Regions from separate parts of the Homo sapiens genome. Here region 2 is linked to region 1. The links come from fine-mapping of genetic effects on gene expression. Tissue or cell type: sun-exposed skin. Region 1 holds a variant in brackets; the other region holds the start of a gene. All regions are shown on one strand. Distances are from middle to middle.

Region 1 (8,098 bases):
GGGGCAGAATCCCCTGGCATTGGCTTTCCTCCTGCCCTCCAGGCTCTTCCCAGCTGGGAGCCAACTGATGCAGGAACCAAAACAAGGCCTGTGTGGCCTTGGAGAAGACACTTGCTTTGAGCCTCAGTTTCCTTTCCTGTTAAAGGGACCCATCAGTCCGGCCTTGCAGGTCTGTGGTTAAGGCAGGGCTGTTTCTCTGCCTGGCACTGGGCCCCAGCTCAGCCCTCTTAATCTGCAGAACTTGCCATTACTCCCCTGCCCTTCTGGGCTCCCTGTGTCCAAGGGGCCCTGAGGACTCAGAAATGAGTCAGACCCTGGCCTCTAGGTTCTCCACTCACTTGGGCCAGGCTGTGGTTGCAGACTGTGCGGTGCTCTCACAGAAAGCAGGCGGGTGGGTACCTTTCACTCCAAAAGGAGCGGAGAGCACAGGGTGAGGTGGGGGCTGGAGCTTCAGAAAGGAGGCTGCATCTGGAAGGCCAGGGAGGACCTCTTGAGGGCTCTGAATGTCAACCTGCATTGCATGAACTTGATCCTCAAGGGGAGGTGGGGGACAGGCCTGGCAGGTGTGCATTGGGAAAGCCCTGTTAAGAGCCAGTGCATGTCAAGCGCCTTGGAACTGTGCATCGGGGATGGTGGCCTGGAGGGGACGAGCTGGAGGCAGGAAGACTAGGGAGGAGGGTCTTTCTAGAGGAGCTCCAAGACTCCCCTTGGACATGCTTTCTGGGACTGCTAGAGTGATTCCTTCTTTCCTGTCACGAAACACCTCTCCCTGTCCTTGAGCCGGGATTCTGAAAAGGTCTCTGGTTCCTGGGCCAGCCCCACCCTGCCCTGCCTTGAGGCCACATCTGCCACACCCTCAGCCTGGCCTAAGGTGCTAGTTACTTGTTGCTATCTCTGGGGACCTTCTTGCCAAGACTGTGCCGTGGAGGGGGTGGGGAGGGGAGGAGCTGAGAAGAGGGGGATGGGCAGGCCAGAGGTTGTGCCCGGTGCACGTGGGATGGAGTATAGGGTGATGCTGTGCTGGGCTGTGTGTGTATGTCGGGGGCGTTTGTCTTGGAGGGGCATGTAGAAGGGATTCCAGTGGTTCACTGGGGGCTTCGCCCACCACTTTTTAATTTTTATTTTTATATATTTTTTGATACTAAGTCTTGCTCTGTCTCCCAGTCTGGAGTGCAGTGGTGCGATATCGGCTCACTGCAACCTCCGCCTCTCAGGTTCAAGCAATTCTCTTGCCTCAGTCTCCCGAGTAGCTGGGATTATGGGCGCCCGCCACCACACCTGGCTAATTTTTTGATTTTTAGTAGAGATGGGGTTTCGTCATGTTGTCCAGGCTGGTCTCCAACTCCTGAGCTCAGGCAATCTGCCCGCCTCGGCCTCCCAAAGTGCTGGGATTACAGGAGTGAGCCACTGCGCCCGGCCACGCCCCCGCTCTTAGTTCTCCCTTCCAACCTTTTCATCCATCAAAGGTTACACTGGGACCCTGCGTCTGTGAGGTGGGGAGATATCTGAAGCTAGACTGGGGATCCCCTCCCAAACGGGATCCTGGGGACTGGCAGACAGCTCAGCTGCCCCCCACTCTCCATCATCCCCAGGGCTCCACCGCAGCCCTGCTCCTCTGTCCTGTGTCCAGCCACCCTGGAAGAGATGGGGGTGGAGTGCAAGGGACTTCAGTGCAGGGAGGGGCTGCAGGGAGGAGGAGGCGAGGTGGGTTTGAGGCCAGAAGACGGAGGGAGATGGGGAAGAAGAGGGGCACCCAGAGCAGCCGACAGCAAACCTAGTGAGCAGTGACAATCAAAACAGGGGCGGTTCACTGAAACTTCTGTGTGTCTGCTGGCTTCACACACTTTATCTGGCTTAATCTTCACTAGTATTATTCTTAAATTTTAGTTTTGTAAATGTTTGTATTTTATTTTGTTTATTAGCTGGAATTGCTAATGCATTTACACATTTGAATATTTAAGAGGTGTGTGCAATACTGAGTCTCCATCTCCCCCGGCTCATTCCCCAGGGACCAGGCTCCCTCCCTGGAGGCAGCCAGCTTCGCCAGCGACTTCCCTCCTCTTCCAGGCTGTCTGCGCAGACAAGCAAACATATGCATAGAAAAGCAAATATATACACATACATTTCCCACTTTTTAACCCATTAAAGGCTGGCATTCCATCACCCGAGTCTTCTGACTTCTTTTTCCACTTGCCTACTTACTAAGGCTCGGAGAGGTTAAGACAATCGTCTAGAGTCACACAGCGGGGGTGGAAAGATGGGCGGCGACCTCAGTCAACCGGTGGAGTGGGATGGAGGGGACAGGATCGGTTTCCGGTAAGAGAAGCGGGAGGAGGCGAGGAGAGCGCGGGGAGCGGGGAGGAGGACGGAGGCGCGGGGCCGGCGTAGGGGATGGGTGGCCAGCCTGGCGCAGAGACAGGAGTCTGGCGGGAGAGGGGAGCCGACGAGATGCGGAGGCGAGCAGGTTCCTGCTCCTGCTGCCCCCGCCCTGGCGGTTGCCGGTGGGACCTGCGACCACCGGAGCCCATGACCCTTCTTTACGCCCCCTATCGTATACTACCCTATCCAAGGCTGGGGTGGGGGCTTCTTCCTGGATGCCCCGCTCCGCCCACGCCCAAGTTCTCCGGCAGAGCCTACAGGTCCTCACTCCCTGCCCATCCTCGTTTCCAGCCTCTCAATCAGGCCTGCGAACGGGCGATGGCGATGCGGTTCTGGGCCTGCCCTAACCCTCTGAGCTAGGACCTGCCATCTGTGAAATGGGTGCATAGTGTGTGGGGGTGGGGCGGGGGTGACTCGGCCTTGGCCGTTCGAGGTTTGGGGATAGCTCGGTGACACCGGCCCCCTCCACTCCGATTTGATGCTCCCCCCAATACCTGGGTGCACTCGCCCCCCTTCCCCGCTACTCCTTGGCTTGGGGGAGGGGGTGGGTGACAGTCCCTGAGCATAGGCGGTCCTACCGATCCCCGCCCGCGCCCCCTTTCCAGATGCTCCTGGGCCGACGCCGCAGGTCCGGGCCAGCCCGGAGCGCCCAGGCGGGGCCGCCGCGGGCAGCCTCCGCGTCGCTGAGCTTTAATGAAGGCCCCCGCGGCGCCCGGCTAATGAGCTCTGGGCCCGGGGTGCGCGCCGTTCCGCCGGGTCTTCGGTGCACCGCCGGGTCCTAAAACGCGGCCGCTACTGACTGACCCTGGGTTCGATTCCCAGCCGAGACGTTTCTGCTCCATTCCGGCAGGAGCTACCTTCCCGAGCCGCGCTTTGCTCACCTGTAGGAGAGCTAGAGGGAAATAAGACAGCCCTTCTTAGGATGGTGGAGTGGCTAGAAAGAAGCAATCCACGCCAAAGGCTTAGCTCAGTTCCTAGACTTAGTAAATGCTCAATAAATGTCTGCCATTGTTATTATTATTTATTATGCTTCCAGCTGGCCTGGAAGGAGGGTTCTGGAGCCAGAAGGGACCTTGGAGAGACCTCGGTTAAATCTCTAGCGCCATCTTTATTTTTAGGATGGAGTAACTTGCTCAGGACCTACATCTAACATTGTGGAGGGGATGCGGTTTTTAAGTAGGAATTCTTGACTAGACCTCTCAGCAACCCTTCCTCTCCGTGACAGTGGGCGCTACACCCCTGTTCCCCTTCACTCTGTGTGTTTGTTCACCTGCTTTTCTGAAATGTCCAAACTGGAAGGGTTGTTAGCTATCTTCTGGCTAACATCTCTCACTTGCTGTGTGATTCTGGGCTAGAGGCTCACCCTTTCTGGGCCCATATTCACACCTGTCAACAGAGAAGGCTGCACTAGCCTGGCAGTTCCCAAACCCCGGCTACATATTGGAATCATTTGGAGAGGCTTTTTATCATTTTAATTTTTATTTACTTATTTATTTTTATTTTTTAAGAGACAGAATCTCACTATGCTGCTCAGGCTGGTCTTCAACTCCTGGTCTCAAGGGATCATCCCCCCTTAGCCTTCTGAGTAGCTGGGATTACAGGCATGAGCCACTATGCCCAGCTTGGAAAGCCTTTCAAAAATGCCAGTTTGGCTAGGCACAGTTCACGACGGCAATCCCAGCACTTTGGTAGGCCGAGGAGGGCAGATTGCTTGAGGTCAGGAGTTTGAGACCAGCCTGGCCAACATGGTGAAACCCTGTTTCTACTAAAAATACAAAAATTAGCTGGGCGTGGTGGCAGGTGCCTGTAATCTCAGCTACTCAGGAAGCTGAGGCAGGAGAATTGCTTGAACCCGGGAGGTGGAGGTTACAGTGCGCCAAGGTCGTGCCACTGCACTCCAGCCTGGGCCACAGAGCAAGACTCCGTCAAAAAAAAAAAAAAAAGTCAATTTCTGGCCCCTCCTCAGAACCCCCAGGGGAATCTGCAGCCAGCCGGATCCTGGCCCTGGGCCTGTGCCTGGGAAGCACATACCTTCCAGCTACGACTGTGAGCCCCTCCCCAGCCCCTTTCTGGGACAGATGGGGACACTGAGAGCCAGAGAGGGGAGATGTGTAGCAGAG[T/G]TGGAACTAAGGGCCAGGTGTCCATCCCGCCAGTCTCTGCTCCCACTGGGATTCCTGCCCAGCCTCTGTCCACTCCGAAGGCTGGGATGAGCGTCTAATGACCGTGTGCAGGGAGAAGGTCGGGGGCAGGTGAGGAGCAGGCAGCCTGGACCCTGCCTCTAGTGGACAGTCCCCATCCCCTTGTCTGACCCCAGGGTTGGGGGGGCCTGCCTCACTTTTCTGAGCTGACAATTGTAGGGTCTCTTGGATGCTCCCACACACTTCGAGTGCCCACAGCTCCCCCACGGGGTACCCGGGAAGGAGAGAAGCGGTGGTTGCGGGGGAGAGGGACGGCAGGAGTACAGGAGTGAGGCTTAGCTGTCTATGGCCTTGGGGGGCTTATGTTCTTGTCCTGGCTCCTGAGAAGGAACGGTTTGGGAGAGGAACTGATTGAAATGTACTTTGCGTTTCTGGAAATTGAAATACTCAATTTGAGAGCATAGCGGCAATTAGTGTTTAATCACAGGAGGATAGAGCATGGGTGGCTGTGCCTGAGCTGGGGAGGACGGGTGGGCTGATTACCCGTCCTGCTTCCTGCTGTGGGGGCTGAGTCCCATTCCTCCCCTTCCCTAGGACAGATTAAAGGTGTAATTTGATGAATCAATTTGTTTTCTGGAGGAGAGAAGGGAGAAGCAGAAATCTCATAATAGCTGGAAGCAAGTTGCTCCATCCTGTCCTACAGGAGTCTTCATCAAGGAGCCAGGGGCGGTAGGGAGGCAGACCCAGTAGAGGAGGCCTCAGTGGTGTCTTCCTTTGAAGTCATGCACACCTGAGTTCAAATCCTGGTTCTGCCATTTACCAGCTGCACGACCTTGAGAAATCCACTTAACCCTCCACTTCCTCATTTCTAAGAAGGACAGCCCAGCAGGGTAGCTGGGCTAATATTTAATATTAGTCAATGTGCCTTCTGCAGTGTCTGGCACTTAATGGATGATCTATAAAGGAGAGAGGATACTGGGGGTAGGGAGGGGTGGGCTGAGACAATTGACCCCTGCTGGGCTGGACTTGAGGTTCACGGCCACATGGTTCCCTGTGCAGCGCCCCGTGGGTCCCAGCAGACACAGCACCATAATGGGAGACTTCTAGGCCGAGAGGGCAAAAGCTTCAAACAGCAGGCGGCAGCACCAGCTGTGTGGTGGCTGGGAGCTGGTCTAGCCTCCGCCTTCCTTCCAGAAGTCTCCCCAGCATCCTCAACCAGGTCAGATCCCCCAGCATGACTCAACATCCCTTCGACTTCCCTTCTGCAGCCCTGTAAGTGCTGGGGGTGCTGTATGTGGTGGTGGGCACCTGGCATGCCAAGTTCATAGCAGGTGCTCTGTCAGTGCAGAGCTGGGCACTAGTGGCCCAGGGTGACAGGCTTTGGCTGGCTGGAGCAGGGCTGGGTCAGGGTCGGGAGAGGCTGGGCTGCAGCAGAGACAGCTCAGGTCTGAGTCAGACAGACCTGGGTTCAAATCCTACCCATCCCTCCCAGTGTTGGGGTAGGGGGCAAGTTGCTGCCCTTCTCTAAATCTTATTTGTAATTTGCTTTCCTGGGCTGGTTATTAAGAATAGTAGAATTTGTCTTCTACCTTCTCCTGGCAGGTGGATGCCTTAGCTCAGCTCCAAGGGACAGTTTTGGGTACTGAGAGGGAACAGGGATGGGGAAGGTGGCCTCCCTTTTACTGAGTCCATACCAGGCCCTGTGTTAAGCTCTTTATGCACTCTGAGTCCTCATCACTCCCTTGTAAGGCAGGAGTAATTCTTTCCATTTTCCAAACAGAGAAACTGAGGCTCAGAGAGGTTTCCTGGCTTGCTTAGTCTCAGCAGCGAGGAGCCAGTTGTTGAACGTGGGGTTGTGTGACTCAGAGCCTGGGCTCTGTCCAATCCCAGCTGGCAGTGGGGGAAGGAGGGGCCTGGGCGGGAGGCTGCAGCTGGGCGTGGGTGGGCAGGTGGGTGCAGAGGCCCATAGATGCTGGCTAATGGGCCCTGGTGGGCCCGGCGCTAATGGGCCCTGGAAGTGCCAGGCGTAGATTTAGTGGGAAGGCAGGTGCTGGCTGCAGTGGGCCAGGAACTCTTCTGCCCCTCCTTTCCCTGTCCCATTCCTCAGGCCAGGGAGGAGGGGGAAGGAGATGGGGGCTCAGGGAGGGGGCATGCACCTAGCTTTGCCACTGACCCTACAGCTGGGTCTCAGCTTTCCCTTCTGCCCAATGGGTGAATCATTCCCTCCCCTCAGGTTTTGTTCTGAGTACCAAGGGCCATACTCTGTAGGAATGAATGCTGTAAAAATCAGGGGGCCACTGAAGTAGTGACCCCCACCCCAAGAAAATGCTCTTTCTTTGGAGACTCTCAGGGCTTTAGGGATAGAAGCAGGTGTGCCCCAATTATGCCAGTTTCCCTTTTCTCCTCCCCGCCCCCAACCCCTGGCAGTCCTAGGTGAGGGACCGCACAGCCAGGCCTGAGTGGGTGGGTAGGTGGCGCTGGCGCAGCCAAGAAGTGCCTGCTTCTGATTGGAAGGCTGGTTTCCATGGCGACCGATTGATTGCCCAAGCTGCAGACTCAAGGGGAATGAGCAATGGGGCCTTTCTCCCAAGCTTCACTGCTCAGGCTTGGGCCTGGAGGCCAAGGCAGGGGTGACATCTTTGTGTCCTGTCAGGGACAAGGGGCCCACTAGGGAACAGAAGGGCACCTCAGCCCAGAAGCCACCACTGGGCACCTGCTGTGTGCACATTCTGAGCTAGCAATGGAACAGGAGGAGGGGACCTAGCATTTATGAAGCAACTACTATGTGAAAACGAAGCTGCTGGGACTAGAACCTGGCCCAGTGGAGTCCCAAGCCTGTGAGCCTAACCACCAGGCTGTGATGCTCGTCCATGCTGCTTGTGAGGACTAAGCACATTTATGGGACACCAGCAAGCATCCTTGGACCACCAGACTGTAACCCCGCTCACACCAAGCTCTGAGGGTGAGGGTGAGACAGTCATTGCTGAGGGAGATCAGGGCTGGGGTGAATGTTGGAGGAATTAGGGAGGAGGATTAAATGTTTGGGGTGAGGGTAGGGAAATAAAGGCACCCCAGGCAGGGCACTGGCTTGGGCAAAGGCAATGAGGTGGAATGAGCTGGCCGTGTGGCAAGAGTTGGCCCCTCCACCTGTGATGTGGACTCGAAAAGGAGGGGCGGCCGTCTCTCTGATTGTTAGCTATGCAGGCCTGTGCCAACCACACCCTACCTCCCCTTTTACCCCTTTCCCATGCCCGTCTTCCCACCTATTCTGTCCATTCTGCCTCCCCCTCACTGGGGCCTGGGTGAGTCCCTGGCCCTCTGGCCACAGAGGTCCCACCGGCCAAAGGAGAAGGCTGGCACCAGTGGGGCTGCCTCCAGGACTCCAGCAGGGGATGGTTTCTCCCCGTCCCCTCCACGGTCTCTTCTCAGATTCCTTCTTTCTTCTTTCTCTCCCTCTTCCTTCTTCCCTGCACGCACCACCCCCTCCAACAATATTCTCACTGTCTCTTTTCCTGCCCTGGGGGTGATTTTGTCCGATTGATTGCCCAAGCAATCTGAATTGCTCTGAATCAGAAATCTGA
Region 2 (8,098 bases), 310 kb after region 1:
GCAGCATGTGGTCGTAGGGCGAGGTGCGGTCGCTGCACTGGTCGATGTCGAAGAAAGCGGCGCCCGGGATGTGGCGCTCCTCGAACTCGCGTCGCGCGTCGCGCCCCAGCTTCGGCAGGTACCAGGAGGCGTCCAGCAGCTGCAGAGGCTGCCCAGCGCGCGGGGCCCGCAGCGCCTCCGCCACCCATTGCGCCGACACCAGCGCGCGGCAGAGCTGCGGCGAAGCCATGGCGGCGACACTCGGGCTGCGGGCCTGGGCGACAGGGAGGATGTCAGAAGGGAAGCAGGGAGAGGCCGCTGTTGGGGCTAGGGCTGGGGCTGGAGCATGGGCGAGGGCCGGCGGGGGAGGTGCGGCCCGTGCAGGGCAGAGTCCAGGGAACGCAGAAACCAGTGGTGGTGAACCCGGGCACAAAGGTGGGTAGCCAGGGGCCTCCCTCTGCCAGGCCTCATATAAACACAAGCTCCGAGTGACCCAATGACCATGACCTCCCGGAGAGCCCCAGGCCACGCCCCTCACCTCCACTTGCTGGGCAGGAGGGTGGGTGGAGGTATCCTAGGGCAAGGCCCTGCTGGCTTCAAGGCACAAACAGGGGCAAAGTCTCCACCCCTCCCTAAGATGCAGCTCGGCTTTATTTGCAACCAAGTCCCAGACGGAAGTCATTCATTCACTCATCAAGCATTTATATTGGCGACCTAATAGGAACAGTAGCTGGAATTTACTGAGTCCTTGCTGGGTACCACTGAATCCTAACAATATCCTAGAACAATGCCTGACACAGTAGACTCTCCAGTATGTGTTGAATGAGTGATCTTAAGAGGCCTGGTATATTATTGTCACCGTTTCAAGGAGGACACTCAGGCTCACAGAAGTGCACTAACCTGGCCTGGTGCGGTGGCTCACGCTTGTAATCCCAGCACTTTGGGAGGCCCAGGCAGGTGGATCACCTGAGGTCAGAAGTTTGAAACCAGTCTGGCCAACATGGTGAAACCCCGTCTCTACCAAAAATACAAAAAATTAGCCGGGCTTAGTGGAGGGCACCTGTAATCCCAGCTACTCGGGAGGCTGAGGCAGGAGAACTGCTTGAACCCAGGAGGCGGAGGTTGCAGTGAGCCGAGATCGTGCCATTGCAATCCAGCCTGGGGAACAAGAGCAAAACTCTGTCTCAAAAACAAAAAACAAACAAGAAAAAGTGCACTAGCCTGACCCGGCGGTGCCAGGCTTCTCACTAGGCAGTCAGTCTGGCACCAGAATCCGGACTTCTCAGACACACACTCTGTGCAGGCTCCAGGAGTCTGGCGAGGCCAGGTTTTGCCTGTCCAGCCTGGGCTCTCTCTGGCCCTTCTAGCAGCAGCAACAGTGACTTCGCACCTCCCTCCCTCTCCTCTCTATCTTTCCTGCATACCAGAGACAGTGCACCAGCTCGCCAGCCCACTATGCCAGGCCAGCCCACAGCCTTCCTGGGTGTAAACTTCCCAAACACTTTAAGCCCTTTGTGCTGGGAAGCCACCGTTGTGCAGGTGAGAGGAAAGGGCCCCTTCTGCCAGGCAGAGGCTGAGCCCCCACCAGGGCACATGGCTGGGTGTGTGGAGTATGGGCTGCAGATCAGCCCTCACTTATCCCCTGTGTGAGGCCCAACCTTGACACCCACTGCATGCAGTCCTGCCAGCGAAATGAAGGGGGCAGGTAGAGAACAACATCTGTGGACCGAGTGCCTCTGTGGGCCAGGTCACATGCTAGGCACCGCAGCCTTGGGCGGGTATTAGGACGCCTGCTTTATGAATGAGGCCACTGGCAATTAGAAGAATAAGTGCCTTGCCCGTGGTCACAGGAGGCAGCCTCAGGATTTGCAGCCAGAATTTGACCCCTCAGGCTGGACTTCCCCTGCCCCAGGTGCCATGATGACCAGGGCCTAATGAGTTCTAGGGTGACACCCTGTGCCCACCCCCACAGTCTGGCCGCAGCTGGCTTTTAGGAACCTACTTCACCCATGCGGTCAGGCCTTGTGCCGGACACCGAGGCACTCTTGCCTTTGCCAAGCCCTGGGGGGAAACGTCAGGCTGCAGGCAAGAGAGAGTGAAATTGAGGATAGTTTAGAATTCAGTGTTGAGCACAGAGGGCCCCTATGTTTGCCTGGGGTGGCAGCAGAAGAGGTGGGAAGGCTTCCTGGAGTAGGAGGAAGTCCAGACTAATCTGACTTTTCCAGGGGCCCAGGAAGCCTCAGCACGGTCTTTAGGGTAGGGAGGCTGCCAAGGGGTGTTTGGCTAAGGGGTGATCCCCATTATCTGCGTTACAGCACAGCTAGGGGGCGCTGTGCTGGCAGATGCTGCAGGTTCCTTCCTGAGGAACCCTATTGTGGGAACCACAGCAGCCCCTGTGCACCCCCAAACACTGTCCCCTATTCTTGAGGATCCTTGTTTCCCTCACCCAATCATCCATTTACAGTAGAAAGAGCCCTGGTTTAGGAGCCAGAGAGCCCCCCAAATCAATGTAAACCCCACTCCACTGCTTAACTGGTTGTGTGATGTGGGTGTGTAGGGTCTCTGGGTGGTTTCTGTTCCTTATAATGGAGCTTCTCACCTCCACCTCTTAGAGCCAAGATTAAACAATAAATGTAGAGGGGCAACCACCATGCATTACATCTGGCTGGTTTTAATAATCATTAAAAACGGTTTAGGTCGGGCGTGGTGGCTCACACCTGCAATCCCAGCACTTCGGGAGGCCAAGGCGGGCGGATAACGAGGTCAAGAGTTCAAGACCAGCCTGACTAACATGGTGAAACCTCATCTCTACTAAAAATACAAAAATTAGCTGGGCATGGTGGCATGAGCCTGTAGTCCCAGCTACCCGGGAGGCTGAGGCAGGAGAATCGCTTGAACCTGGGAGGCAGAGGTTACAGTGAGCCGAGATCGCGCCACTGCACTCCAGCCTGGGCAACAGAGTGAGACTCCATCTCAAAATAATAATAATAATAATAATATTGCATTATTTCTTCCATTACTCTCATTGGTGGCCCTGGAACTGCCAGCAGCAAATCTAAAATCTTAGAATTTCAGGGCTTGGTGGGACTTCAGAGATCTGAGGTCACCCTGCCCCAGTCTCCCTGCTTGATTGGCACTTCTCACAAAGGTCTGTGGGCCATAAAGGAGGGTGTGAAGGCAGGCTGTGGGTGTCAGGGAGGGGTAGAAACCAGGTGCCTGTGTGATTCAGAAGCCGGGATCACTGTAGGTGAGGGTGCCCTGGGAGTGGAGGACCCCAGGACGTAACCGCCCCAGGCTCATGTCAGAAGGATACACAGCTGCACTGAAGCAAGCGTGAGCCGCAGGCTGGATCCAGGGTACCCCTTGAGGAGCAGAGCTTGGGAGCTCCTCTTGGACCTCCCCAGCCTGGTCCCTCCTGCCCACCCCCTCCCCCAACCACCAGACACTAGGCTTTGAGGATTGCTGTGAGCATTTTAGAACAAAACCTTTTTTTAAAAAGAGGGATGAGGCCAGGGATGGTGGCTCATGCCTGTAATCTCAGCACTTTGGGAGGCTGAGATGGGCAGATCACTTGAGCCCAGGAGTTCAAGACCAGCCTGGACAACATGGTGAAACCCCATCTCTACCAAAAATTTAAAAATTAGCCGGGAATGGTGGCACATGCCTGTGGTCCCACCTACTTGGGAGGCTAAGGTGGGAGGATCGCTTGAGCCTGGGAGGCGGAGGTTGCAGTGAGCTGAGATGGCGCCACTGCACTCCAGTCTGGGCCACAGAACCACAGCCTGTCTCAAAAAACAAAACAAAACAAAAGGTCAGGGTTGGGAAACAGGGAAAGCTTCCAGGCTGGCCTCTGCAAAAGCTAGGGAGGGGCAATGGTGTCCCCCAGTTTGCAAGAGCCCATGGCGAGCTTTTCAGGAATTTTGCCAACTGGTTGTTAAATACAGCTATTATTAAAAATTGAATTACATCAACTTATGATTAAACGGGCTAAGTTCAAAACAGGCAATTTTTTAAAAAGCATGAACCTTCAGGGAAGAGCCAGGTAAACAAAGGCAGCTGGTACCACGTGGGCTTCAGACCAGGGATCAGGCCCGGCCTCAACTCTGGGTGTGTCCTCCAGCAACTCGCTCTGCCGCTCTCTCCTGTCTTAGTAAGTTTCTGGCCTACTCCTCAGGGTTATTGTGGGAATTAAGTCACACCACGGGAGTACCCAGCAAAGTGCCACACCAAGCAGGGCTGGACAATGTTAGTTCCTTTCACTCACTAACAAGTTATTGGCTAGTGTCTCTTCCTGGGGCCTCTGGGTCAGCGGGGTCTCGTCTCCCTGTCCTCCTCTCTCTCCCCCGCCCTCTCTGGTGCCACCAGGTCACCCACTTCCACCCAAGGCTCCCCACCCGCCACTCGCCACGACCCCACCCGGCAGGCCGCCCCAAGCGGACAGTCACCCTTAGTGCCAACGTAGCGGCGCGCCTTCTCTCCTAGACTAAGCCCCCTCTTCCGCCCAGGTCCCGCGCGGGAGCCCCGCGCCGAGCACCCCCAAAGAGCCACTCCCTCCCCCTCCAGAAAGGCAAGCCGCCACGCCGCGGCAGTTACCCGGGTCTCGGACTCCCGGCTTCCTGGCTCCGCCATGGCCCCCGCGGCGCGGCGCCCCCTCCCCGCGCCCGCAGCTGTCCCCTCCTCCCGCCACCAACCTGCAGCGGACCAAAGGGAGGAGACTCCGGCACAGCCCACCGCCGCGGCCACTCGGAGCCGCTGCTGCCCGCGCCTTCCACTGGCCGGGCCGTGGGGGTACGCCCGCTCCGCCCAGCCCAGGCCCGCGCGGCCCCCGCGCCACCCGGCGTCCCCCTCAGACCCCCGCGGGTCCCGGAGGCCCCGCGCGCGAGGTTGGCAGGTGCCGGGCGCGAAGCGGCCGCGCGGGGGAGGCGCGGGATGGCGGCGGGCGGCGCAGGGTCCCCCTCTGGCGGTGGCGCGATGGTGCGCGCCGCCTGGGGAGCTGCGGCCGGGGGTTTGAACCGGCCAACTTCTCCAGCCGGCCGGGGCGAGCGCCAGCGCGGCGTCCGGGGCGAGTGAGTGCGGGGCGGGGGCAGCGGCCGGGCGCCTGGGCCGCCGGTCGGGCCACCTGCTGCCCGGGGAAGGATAGCGTTGCGAGAGTGGGACGGGGTGCCCCGGGAACCCCTGATCCACCTAGGGCAGAGGGCAGCGAGCTACGGGCCGGACTCGGGCACTCTGGAGGCGGGCGAGCTCGGGCTGCCTGGGGAGGCCGCAGGCGATGGCGTGTGCGCGGCTCGCGGAGCTTCCTAGCCGTGCGCCCACCCCCTCTGCCTTGGAAGGAAAGGGGATTCTAAGCCCAAGATGCCATCGCCCCCCATCCCGGGCATGCTTTCATTGCTCTTTCCTGGCGGGATCGAGTACTGTAACTTCTAGGAGCCAGATCCCCGCCCCAGGAAGCGCCCCTACTTGGAGTCCTCGGAAACTCTTGCCCCACCCGCTTCTGCGCTGGGCCCCCGGGCCGGCTGGGAGGGGCGGGGCCGGCTTTCCAGAGGGAATCTGCAAACTTATCCCGCTGCACGCCCCAGCCTCGCTGGCTTGCTGTAAACAAGGAACCCGGGGGAGTGCGGAGGGAGAAAGAGCTTCTCCCAGGCCTCACCCTACTGCACACACCGACTTCCTTCCTCACGCCTGTCTCTCTTTCCTGGTTCCCACCCGTGCCAGGTGACACGCAGAGCTGAAGCCATGGTTCATCAGGTGCTCTACCGGGCGCTGGTCTCCACCAAGTGGCTGGCGGAGTCCATCAGGACTGGCAAGCTGGGGCCCGGCCTGCGGGTGCTGGACGCGTCCTGGTACTCACCAGGCACCCGAGAGGCCCGCAAGGAGTACCTCGAGCGCCACGTACCCGGCGCCTCTTTCTTTGACATAGAAGAGTGCCGGGACACGGCGTCGCCCTACGAGATGATGCTGCCCAGCGAGGCTGGCTTCGCCGAGTATGTGGGCCGCCTGGGCATCAGCAACCACACGCACGTGGTGGTGTATGATGGTGAACACCTGGGCAGCTTCTATGCTCCCCGGGTCTGGTGGATGTTCCGTGTGTTTGGCCACCGCACCGTATCAGTGCTCAATGGTGGCTTCCGGAACTGGCTGAAGGAGGGCCACCCGGTGACATCCGAGCCCTCACGCCCAGAACCGGCCGTCTTCAAAGCCACACTGGACCGCTCCCTGCTCAAGACCTACGAGCAGGTGCTGGAGAACCTTGAATCTAAGAGGTTCCAGCTGGTGGATTCAAGGTCTCAAGGGCGGTTCCTGGGCACCGAGCCGGAGCCGGATGCAGTAGGTAGGTGTCCCAGTGCTGGGTGGTCCCTGGGGAGTATTGCCCCATGGAAGGATAGGGAGTAAGGATGACTGGGACCCTCTCCAGGGTCCGTCCCATGCCTTCAATCCTCCCATGTAGGCCTCAGTCTTTCCATCGATAAAACCAGAAAGTGGAGACAAACCTAAAGGCTTTTTCAGCTTGGATGCACAAGGACCCAAGAATGTGTCCTCATAGCCATGTGCTAAGAAGCCACCTAGCATCTGTGTGAGCAGAAGTCACTGGTGACATGTCCACCACCTCCACTCCCAGGCACCAGCTGCCCCACATGTACTAGGATATACCTAAGGGTGTCATGCCCCTGAGCCAGCGTTTGCATTGCTGTACAGAAACCTCCCACGGACACATCCAGCTTCTCCAGGCCTCTCTCGTCCCGCAGAAACCCTTATAGACATCAACAGTGTCCCTCCCCGCAGGATCCCCCTCTCCCCAAATCTAGCTCTCCTGGGGCCCCTGCCTGCTGTTTGCAAAGGTTCCATAACCTTTCCAGGCAGCTGCAGCCCGTCGGCAGAGTTGTAACAGCAGCTGCCATTTCATGCCAGACACTTGGCACCGCATTATCTCAGCGAACAAAGCTCAATGCCCCTGTTTTGGCAGCGGGGGGTGGGGGGACTGAGATGCCAGGACATAAAGTGGTGGAAGGCAGGATTCGAATCCAATGCTGCCTTGTTTCAAACCAGGGCTATAAACCAGGACGCACCCAATGCTGCCCTACCCCTACTTCCCAGGGCCAGGAGGGAGTCCCCTCTGCTAGTTGCCCCAGGAAGGCGACTCAGAAGTTCCCCTCCTGTGGAAGGGAAGGCCAGGTGGATTGGATACTGCTTGAGGGTTGGGGAGAGCCTCAGGAGAGGAAATGCTGAGTTCTAGAACCTCCTAGCCAGACAGAACCTCGGAGGTCTTCCCTTTTCTAGAGGCAGGACTGCCGTCTCGCTGCCATCACTCCTGCTGAGTGCCCTCCAGTCCCTGCCTGGCCATTTCCAGGAGCAGGGCCCTCTCTTGTCTCTGGGCACCTCCTTGGTGGCTCTTTCCTCAGTCAGAGCTCCTTCTCTACAGAATCTAACTCGTGTGCAACATTTTGCCTGACTTGTTGAAAAACATCTCTTCCTGTCTGTACCTCCTACAGAGAGAATGCTGGGAAAACTGTTCTGCACACTCTTAGAGCTGGAGGGCCTGAACGGTGACCTCACCTGACAGAGGGGAGACTGAGGTGCACAGAGGCAGGGGCCAAGGCCGCATAGCTAGTTAGTGACAGAGCCAGGACAGCAGGGTCTCTGCCCTTTCCAGCGCAGCTTTTTCCAGGCCCCATATTTTTCTTGCCTGCTTGCTCTCTGAAGGTCTGGAGTTGAAGATTCAAGTTCATTTGGCACCTCCCAGAGAATCCTGGCTGGGAACGCCTGCAGCCCTCTCCTGGCCTTGGTTCAAGACGCCTCTTCTCCTTGGGATTTAAGCTGTCATGGGGGAGGATCAGTGGAATTGGTTCTCTTGCTGCTTCCCAGCCTGCCCTGAAGCAACCTAAGAAATAAGTGGAAGGGACAGCTTGGAGGTGCCAGGCCCAATGTCCTCACCCATTTTACAGATGAGGAAACTGAGGCTCAGAGGAGGAGAATGGCCTGCAGTGGGTAATGCCTCCTGAAGGCCCGGGATGCTGAAGTTCCTCCTCTGTAATTGTGTTCACACCTCCTTCAGTTTCCCTCAGGAGCATCAGGGAACATGGATTCTCATTTCAGCTCAGCCACTCCTCCTTGGAGTGACCTC

Which allele goes with the higher level. Alleles are on the strand shown, and positions count from the first base shown. SD is a standard deviation of normalised expression in the study named.
For the expression in sun-exposed skin of the gene that starts at base 4,703 in region 2, allele T in region 1 goes with a higher level than allele G (small effect, 0.36 SD a copy in GTEx).

What was found. PIP is the estimated chance that this variant, and not a neighbour inherited with it, causes the effect.
Region 2: it holds the start of MPST, and the variant in region 1 is fine-mapped to the expression of MPST in sun-exposed skin (GTEx, PIP above 0.99).

Annotation. Positions count from the first base shown.
Region 1 is chr22:37,329,584-37,337,681 of GRCh38, reverse strand. It overlaps LOC105373024 (a long non-coding RNA gene), which reads left to right and starts at 5,546. Exons shown (of 4, transcript XR_938232.3): 1 at 5,546-5,789. RefSeq lists a silencer at 6,880-7,174 and an enhancer at 8,073-8,098. The variant T/G (reference allele first, on the strand shown) is at 4,500.
Region 2 is chr22:37,016,347-37,024,444 of GRCh38, reverse strand. MPST (mercaptopyruvate sulfurtransferase) reads right to left here and starts at 4,703. Exons shown (of 3, transcript NM_021126.8): 1 at 4,573-4,703; 2 at 1-253. The coding sequence starts at 4,608. It overlaps TST (thiosulfate sulfurtransferase), which reads left to right and starts at 4,998. Exons shown (of 3, transcript NM_003312.6): 1 at 4,998-5,045; 2 at 5,692-6,307. The coding sequence starts at 5,713. RefSeq lists silencers at 4,387-4,706, 4,717-4,836, 4,867-5,256, 5,417-5,476 and enhancers at 4,950-5,451, 5,480-6,455.